Homo sapiens: one gene and its partner. The protein of the gene in region 1 purifies or fractionates together with the protein of each later gene. This does not show direct contact. Each region holds a gene or a part of one and is shown on either strand. Other genes may lie near its edges.

Region 1 (3,374 bases):
AGAGGTGTCTTGGACTACAGTAGCACTGATGTGCTATTTACGTAGGTGTTTGAACACACAGAGAACCCTGACTAGTGCTATAGTGCTGTCTCCATATTATAGAATTGAGTTTCATGAAAGTCACTCACCATTAAGTGAGCTGGGACCTCATTCCAGGTCTTCTGAATCATATGACATGATTCTCAGGTTATTTGAAAGAACCTTAACAGGTAAATATGGCCTATTAACGTAATCAGCAAAAATGAAAAATTTGGTATTAGGAGTGTTCAGGGGCCCCATGAGTCAATATTGTTTTTGACTCTAGGCAGGTTTTTAGGCAGAAAGAACTTCTACCATCTAACCTAGAACAGTAATTGCTGGGACACAGGAGTCCAGTCTCCCTCCCATTGCCCTGAACTCAAGAGTACATATTTAAAAAGATACACATATTTTTGGAGACAGGGTCTTGCTTTGCTGCCCAGGCTGGAGTGCAGTGACATGATCATGGCTCACTGCAGCCTCAACCTCCTGGGCTCAAGCGATCTTTCTAACCTCAGCCCCCTGAGCAGCTGGGACTACAGGCACGTGCCACCATACCTGGCTACCTGGCTAATTTTTGTGCTTTTTGTAGAGATGGGTCTCTCATTATGTTGCCCAGGCTGGTTTTGAACTCCTAGGCTCAAGCAATACTCCCACCTTGGCCTCACAAAGTATTGGGATCACAGGCATGAGCAGCCATACCAGGCCCTGAACTATAAGAATTTTACCCATACAGCCATTTCTTTCTTGGGGAAGAATCTCACTAGCCAAGAGCTCTGTTAGAATCTGGGTGGCCAACTAGCTTATGTGACTTTTTTTTTTTTTTTTGAGCTAGAGTCTCACTCTTGTTGCCCAGGCTAGAGAACGATGGCACAGTCTCGGCCTAATTCAACCTCTGCCTCCCGGGTTCAGGTGATTCTCCTGCCTCAGCCTCCCAAGTAGCTGGGATTACAGGTGACTGCCACCACGCCTGGCTAATTTTTGTATTTTTAAGTAGAGATGGGGTTTCAACATGTTGGCCAGGCTGGTCTCGAACTCCTGACCTCAGGTGATCCACCTGCCTCAGCCTCCCGAAATGTTGGGATGATAGGCATGAGCCACCGCGCCCGGCCTTATGTGACTTTTAATAGACCAGAAATTTAGATGCTATCATATAATAGTAGCACTTCTTCTTCGGCCTTGGTTTTCTCATCTAGGCAGTTTGAGATGAGATGATCTCTAAGGACGACCCTCTCAGTTTTGTATTAAATTGAAAAAGACATGTGAGCAAAACTAGCCCAATAGTTTGCAGTTTCCTTTCCTAGACAACAGAACTCTAGATGTCGACCCTTTTGGCACTCAAGCTGCCAAGGCCCCTCCTAATCTGGAATTCTGGAAGGTTCCAGTACTCCAGGGTTTCAGAGGAAGACTAGAGGCCTAGGGTCCAGATCTGCTTAGGCTCTCAGGGCCTCCAAAGGTGACTGGTGACTCGGCATCCACGTGGTAGTATGACTTTCCCACTGGTGACCATTTTCCCTATTACAGATGGATAATAAATGTGTAGGTCATTGGAACGATTGGTATGGATTAATATTTAGGGGAGAGGAAAAAGTTGGCACTTGGGTTAGTTTCTTGGCTGTTTTCTATGTTGCTTTGTCCAAGTAGCCTAAACCTAACAGCTAGGAATAGAGGAAACCGGTGAGGCTGTGAGTCTTCCCGTTTGTCCAAAGAGCTTCCCGCACACTGGATCCTTCCTTCCCTTGAGTACTTCAAATATCATCAGTCCCGTCCAAGCTTTCTCTCTGGATCCCAGCATAGCAATGAAGTAGCCTTTAATGTGCCCTACTGAACAAGCTCTTTACAAAAGAGTAGCACAAGGTCACAGAAAAATTAAAAAAGACCAGTGCCTGTCTGCCCCTCTTCACCAGTATCTGTGTGGAACCTGAATTTAGCCATACCTTTCCTTGCCCTAACCTCTGGCCACCATGGACCTGTTCTGTTACTGCAGTCTTGCCTTTTTTTGGGGGGTGGGCTGGGGAGGGTGAGACAGTCTCCCTGTATCCTCCAGACCGGAGTGCAGTGGTGTGACCTCTGCCTCCCGGGTTCAAGCGATTCTCACACCTCAGCCTCCTGGGTAGCTGGGATTACAGGCGCGCTCCACCATGCCCAGCTAATTTTTGTATTTTTAGTAGAGACAGGGTTTCGCCATGTTGGCCAGGCTGGTCTTGAACTCCTGAACTCAGGTGATCCACCTGCCTTGGCCTCCCAAAGTGATGGGATTACAGGTGTGAGCCACCACACCCAGCCCAAGTCTTGCCTTTTTGAGACACCAAAACAGATGGACTCATGTAGTAAGTAGCCTTCAGAGACCAGCTTCCTTCCCTCAGTGAAGCGCCTCGAGAGTCACCCACGTTGCTGCGCTTGTCAGTTCCTCCTCTTTATTGCCGAGTAGTATCCCATTCCACGGACACACCAGTTTCCCTATTCATCACAGAAGGACACTGGCGTGTTTCCAGCAGGTAGGAATAATGCTGCTGTCAACAGTTACACCCAGGTTCTGTGTGAACATAGTTTTCATTTCTCTAGGGCAGATAACCCAGGAGTGGACTGCCAGGTCCTCCCTAAGTGTATGTGTGACTGCGTCAGAAACCAGCTGTCTCCTGAGTCAGTGCACCATTCCATGGGACCTGCTTTTTACCTTTTATATTTGTGCTTTCAGGCTTTAAAACAAAGTAACTTAATTAGAACTACATATCTCAAACAGTTTTATTAGCCAATACTGTATTTAAATTCATTGTTTTACCTATTAACAAGTTTTAGCTTTCTGCCATTCTCTGTATGAAAGAAGAACTTGGCCTGGACGTTCATAAATATGAGCCATGTGTTGCTCATTGATGTCACTGCGCACTAACTCCTAGCCAAGGAGCCTGGCTGAATTAAGCTGCTGGGCTTGTGAGCCATCCTGGAACCTCCATTCCTCCCCTCCCCCAAGCCTGTTTGTTTTCATTGGCTAAAGGGATGACTGTCTTAGCTAAGCAGGGCCTTTCTAGGGAAAGCTGCTGCACACACACCTGGTTTACTTCTGTGTGATCCTATTTACCCCGAGAGGACCGAGCAAGCCACCGTACCTGGCTGTCCTGCATCAGGGTCCACAGGTCAAGTACGTCAGTCCCACAGTCTTGGGCCACTTGTAAACACGCATTGGCATATTCACCAACAACAGAGTTCAGGCGATTTAGTTTGCAACCTATTGAAGAGAAGAAATAGAGGTGGCAGTTGGTAAACCCAAGTGCTGGCCCTTGTGTAAGTTCTGCTCCACTCATCTAGACAGTTTCAAAATGCCATTAAATATTGACCCCACTTGGGCCAGCCCCGGG
Region 2 (3,500 bases), on another chromosome or scaffold:
GGTGCACACCTGTAATCCTAGCTACTCAGGAGGGTAGGCATGAGAATCACTTGAGCCTGGGAGGCAGAGGCTGCAGTGAGCTGAGATCATGCCACTGCACTCCAGCCTGGGCAACAGAGTGAGACTGCCTCAAAAGAAAAAAAAGAGAAGAATTTCCTAACATGTAAAAATTACATGAAAGTCAAATTTCAGTGTCCACCAATAAAGTTTATTGGGACACAGCTACAACCATTCATTCACATACTGTCCACGGCTGCTTTTGTGCTACAAGTGCAGAGGTGGGTAGCTGCAACAGAGCCTACAGCCTGCACAGCCTAAAATATTTACCATGTGGCCCTTTGCAGAAGCTTGCTGACCTGTGGTCTAAATGTGGCCTCTGACTGGTTGGTTACCTGAGAAGCGGCTACCAATGCCAGCACCACCACCATGAACCACAGCCATTTTGGAATGCACTTCAAGGCTAACTAATGAAATTACAACCAAAATTTATATACTTCTATTTCATTCATGAGACTCGGCTCCAAATGACACTCTGTGAGGTCAGGAGTTTGAGACCAGCCTGGCTAACATGGTGAAACCCCATCTCTACTAAAAATACAAAATTAGCTGGGCGTGGTGGCACAAGCCTGTAGTCCCAGCTACTTGGGAGGCTGAGAGAGGAGAACTGCTTGAACCTGGGAGGTGAAGGCTGCAGTGAGCCAAGATCGCGCCACTGCACTCCAGCCTGGGCGACAGAGCAAGACTCCATCTCAAAAACAAACAAACAAACAAACAAAAAAATGACACTCTACTGGCTCTGAAAAAATCAAACCCAATCTCAGAGGACCAATTTTTCTCCTCAGAAAACTGTCCAAATAATGTGCTACATGCTCTGAAAATAATCCCCAAGGGGGAGTTCTAGAAACATCTACCACAGGCTCAGTGGAATAACTTATAACTTTCTAAGGGAACACTGAGGAAGAGGGTGACAGTGAGATAGGACACTGATTTGGATGTTTTTTTAGTTAGCAGCTATACACCTCTATATCCTAGTGAATCCAACCTGACAGAACTCTGTACAAAGTGCCAGAACCCAAGGCAATCAATATAGGTGCACAGAGGTTAAGGGTCTAGAGTCGGTCGGCCTGTGTGTAAACACCAGCATCACCCCTCACTAGAGCAAGTTATATCTCCTCTGCGCCTCAGGGTCTTCATCAGTAAAATGGCAGTGATGTTTCAGAACTACTTCAAAGAGTTTCTGTGAAGATGAAATGAACTTAAAGGTCTCAGTGTCCAGAACACGGTAAGTTCTTACGACATTTCTACATAGCCTGATTCTGCCAACCGAGAACTGTGATTCTAGAAAAGTCACCTATCTCGCTGTCTCAGTTTTCTCTCCTGCAAAATGGGGGCAGCTATGTAAACCTCAACTCCCTTTTCTTCCTTCCCTTACCCCACACCTCATATAATTAATTTTACAAACCACAGAAATATTTTCAGCACTTCCATTCTCTAAAACACACATTCCTTAGTAGTCAACTTTTTACACAGGTCAGAAAAAGGAAAACAAAATAAAACCAAAAAAAAAAAAAACCTCTTTCCAAAGCTAAAATATACTGATACCATCTACGTGCAGTTGTGTTTGTACCTATGACCAGCTGCCAGGGTCACAGAGATTTCACTGAGGGTGAGTCAAGCCTTGCCTATACCCGAATCCTCTAAACAGGAAGGCACATTAGAGCAGTGCTCTGAAGCATGGACTTGGGGACTTGGTTCAAGCCCTGCCCTGCCATTTTATGACCTCAGACATGAATGATACCTAACCTCTCAAAAACTGTTTCCTTATTCTAAAATGGGAAAATTGTACCTACCTGCAAGGGACAGCTGTGACTATTAAATGAGCAAAGTGTATAGAGCCAGCACTCAGCACAGTGTCCAGCACATAAAAAGTAACTATTAGTAGTGTATGACATGCACAGACTCTAAACTACACTAACTCAGAATTGACACTGTATATTTTTAGTAAATCATCTCACAGACAAGCATAGCGAGGGAAACAGAATAAATCCTCATCAGAGGATTCTCATCAGAGAAGAGCCAAGAACTAATGGAGCCCAGTGCATCCTGGAAACAAGGCCCAGGGGGACGTGCAGGGCCCCATGCTCTGGAATGCATGCACCTGGAGCCAGAATCTGGCCTGCCACTCATGGCCCTGCCTGATCTCACTGCTCAGCCACTCCCAAGCAGAGTGCCAGCTGGGGCAGGCAAGGCAATTCCCTGCCCATTTCCAAAGCCAGAGGGCAGGCATGGGCAATAGGCTGTGGCCACAGGTTGCAGGTGTGTTAGCCAAGAGAGCAAGCACCTGTGCCCAGATCCTAAAAATGTCAGCACCCATGCTGAGACGGCTGTAGCCCAGGCAAGCTGGAGCCAGGGAGAAAGCAAGGTGCCTCATGGAACTGGAAAGGAAAGGGGCACATGGAGAATTAAGGGGATACAGCTACAAAAGAGAGGCAGCTTCCATGGGCCAGGAAACGACTGATAAAACTGCCATTCCTCACTTACCAGCCAAAACTGGCTGCCTAACTTAACTTAAGGAAGTAACTGCCAGGGAACTCCAGTAAGCCAGCAAACTGCAGGTATTATCCTCAGAATCAACTGAGGCTGGACCCAGGGATCTTGACTCTTGCTTTGAGACTCTTTCCAGTAAGCCATGGTGCCTAGACTGAAGTTTTCGTTCCAGCGGCCCCTTTATTTCACAGATGGGGAAACTGAGGCCCAGAATGGAGAAGTCCCACCGTAGCAGGTGCAGACAGAACCAGCACAGACTCAAGCACTGGCAGGGCTTCCTGAATCCCAGCATCCCACAGGAGAGCTCCTAGCAGGCTTCAGTGTGGAAGTGAGGACACTGGATCTTCACTGACAGAGGAATGTGAGCAAACACCTGCATTAACAAAGGCCCCACAAACACTGTCTAGGCAAAAGAACCCCAATCGTTATTCTACAGTCTACTGAAAACAACTTAAGCCTCATATTTTATAACAATTAAGCAGAAAATACCTGAAGTAACTTTCTAACCTCAGGCTTAAAGAAAAAGTGAGAGAGAAAAATAATATATCCAAACCTGCATCTGTTCCAATAAGCCAGTCAAGGTCTGCAGCCAGGTCATGGTTTGAATGTATTGCTCCGTGTTCATGATTTTGAGCTCAGATCTCAACTCTGGGATGATTGCACCAGTCCTCCAGCCATGCTTTAGGGTCAAATCCTGATCACAAAGATCACGAAAAGTCAACGTCAGTCTCAACAGAATCTAAACTATGTCATTATTTTCCCAGACATGAGAGGCATTCATTTAATTACTTTTTGATGGTAATGGTTAGTTATTCACCAAGCTGAATTCAATGAATTACATTTAATTAAAACCTATTTGGCCCCAGCCTTTGATCATTTCATTCCAAGAAAGTTTCAGTTCTGGAAATAATTGCCGTGAGTCACAACCCCTGCAGAAACACTAGGTCTGGAAT

What was found. The genes of interacting proteins can lie anywhere in the genome.
Region 2: the proteins of IAH1 (region 1) and NT5DC3 fractionate together in Homo sapiens (co-fractionation; one large-scale study listed by BioGRID). This does not show direct contact.

The regions. Positions count from the first base shown.
Region 1 is NC_000002.12:9,484,302-9,487,675, reverse strand, and holds part of IAH1 (isoamyl acetate-hydrolyzing esterase 1 homolog), read right to left. Parts: intron 3,245-3,374; coding exon 3,126-3,244; intron 1-3,125. UniProt on the Homo sapiens protein: Probable lipase.
Region 2 is NC_000012.12:103,782,235-103,785,734, forward strand, and holds part of NT5DC3 (5'-nucleotidase domain-containing protein 3), read right to left. Parts: coding exon of another isoform or gene 3,442-3,500; exon of another isoform or gene 3,374-3,441; intron 3,242-3,373; coding exon 3,101-3,241; intron 1-3,100.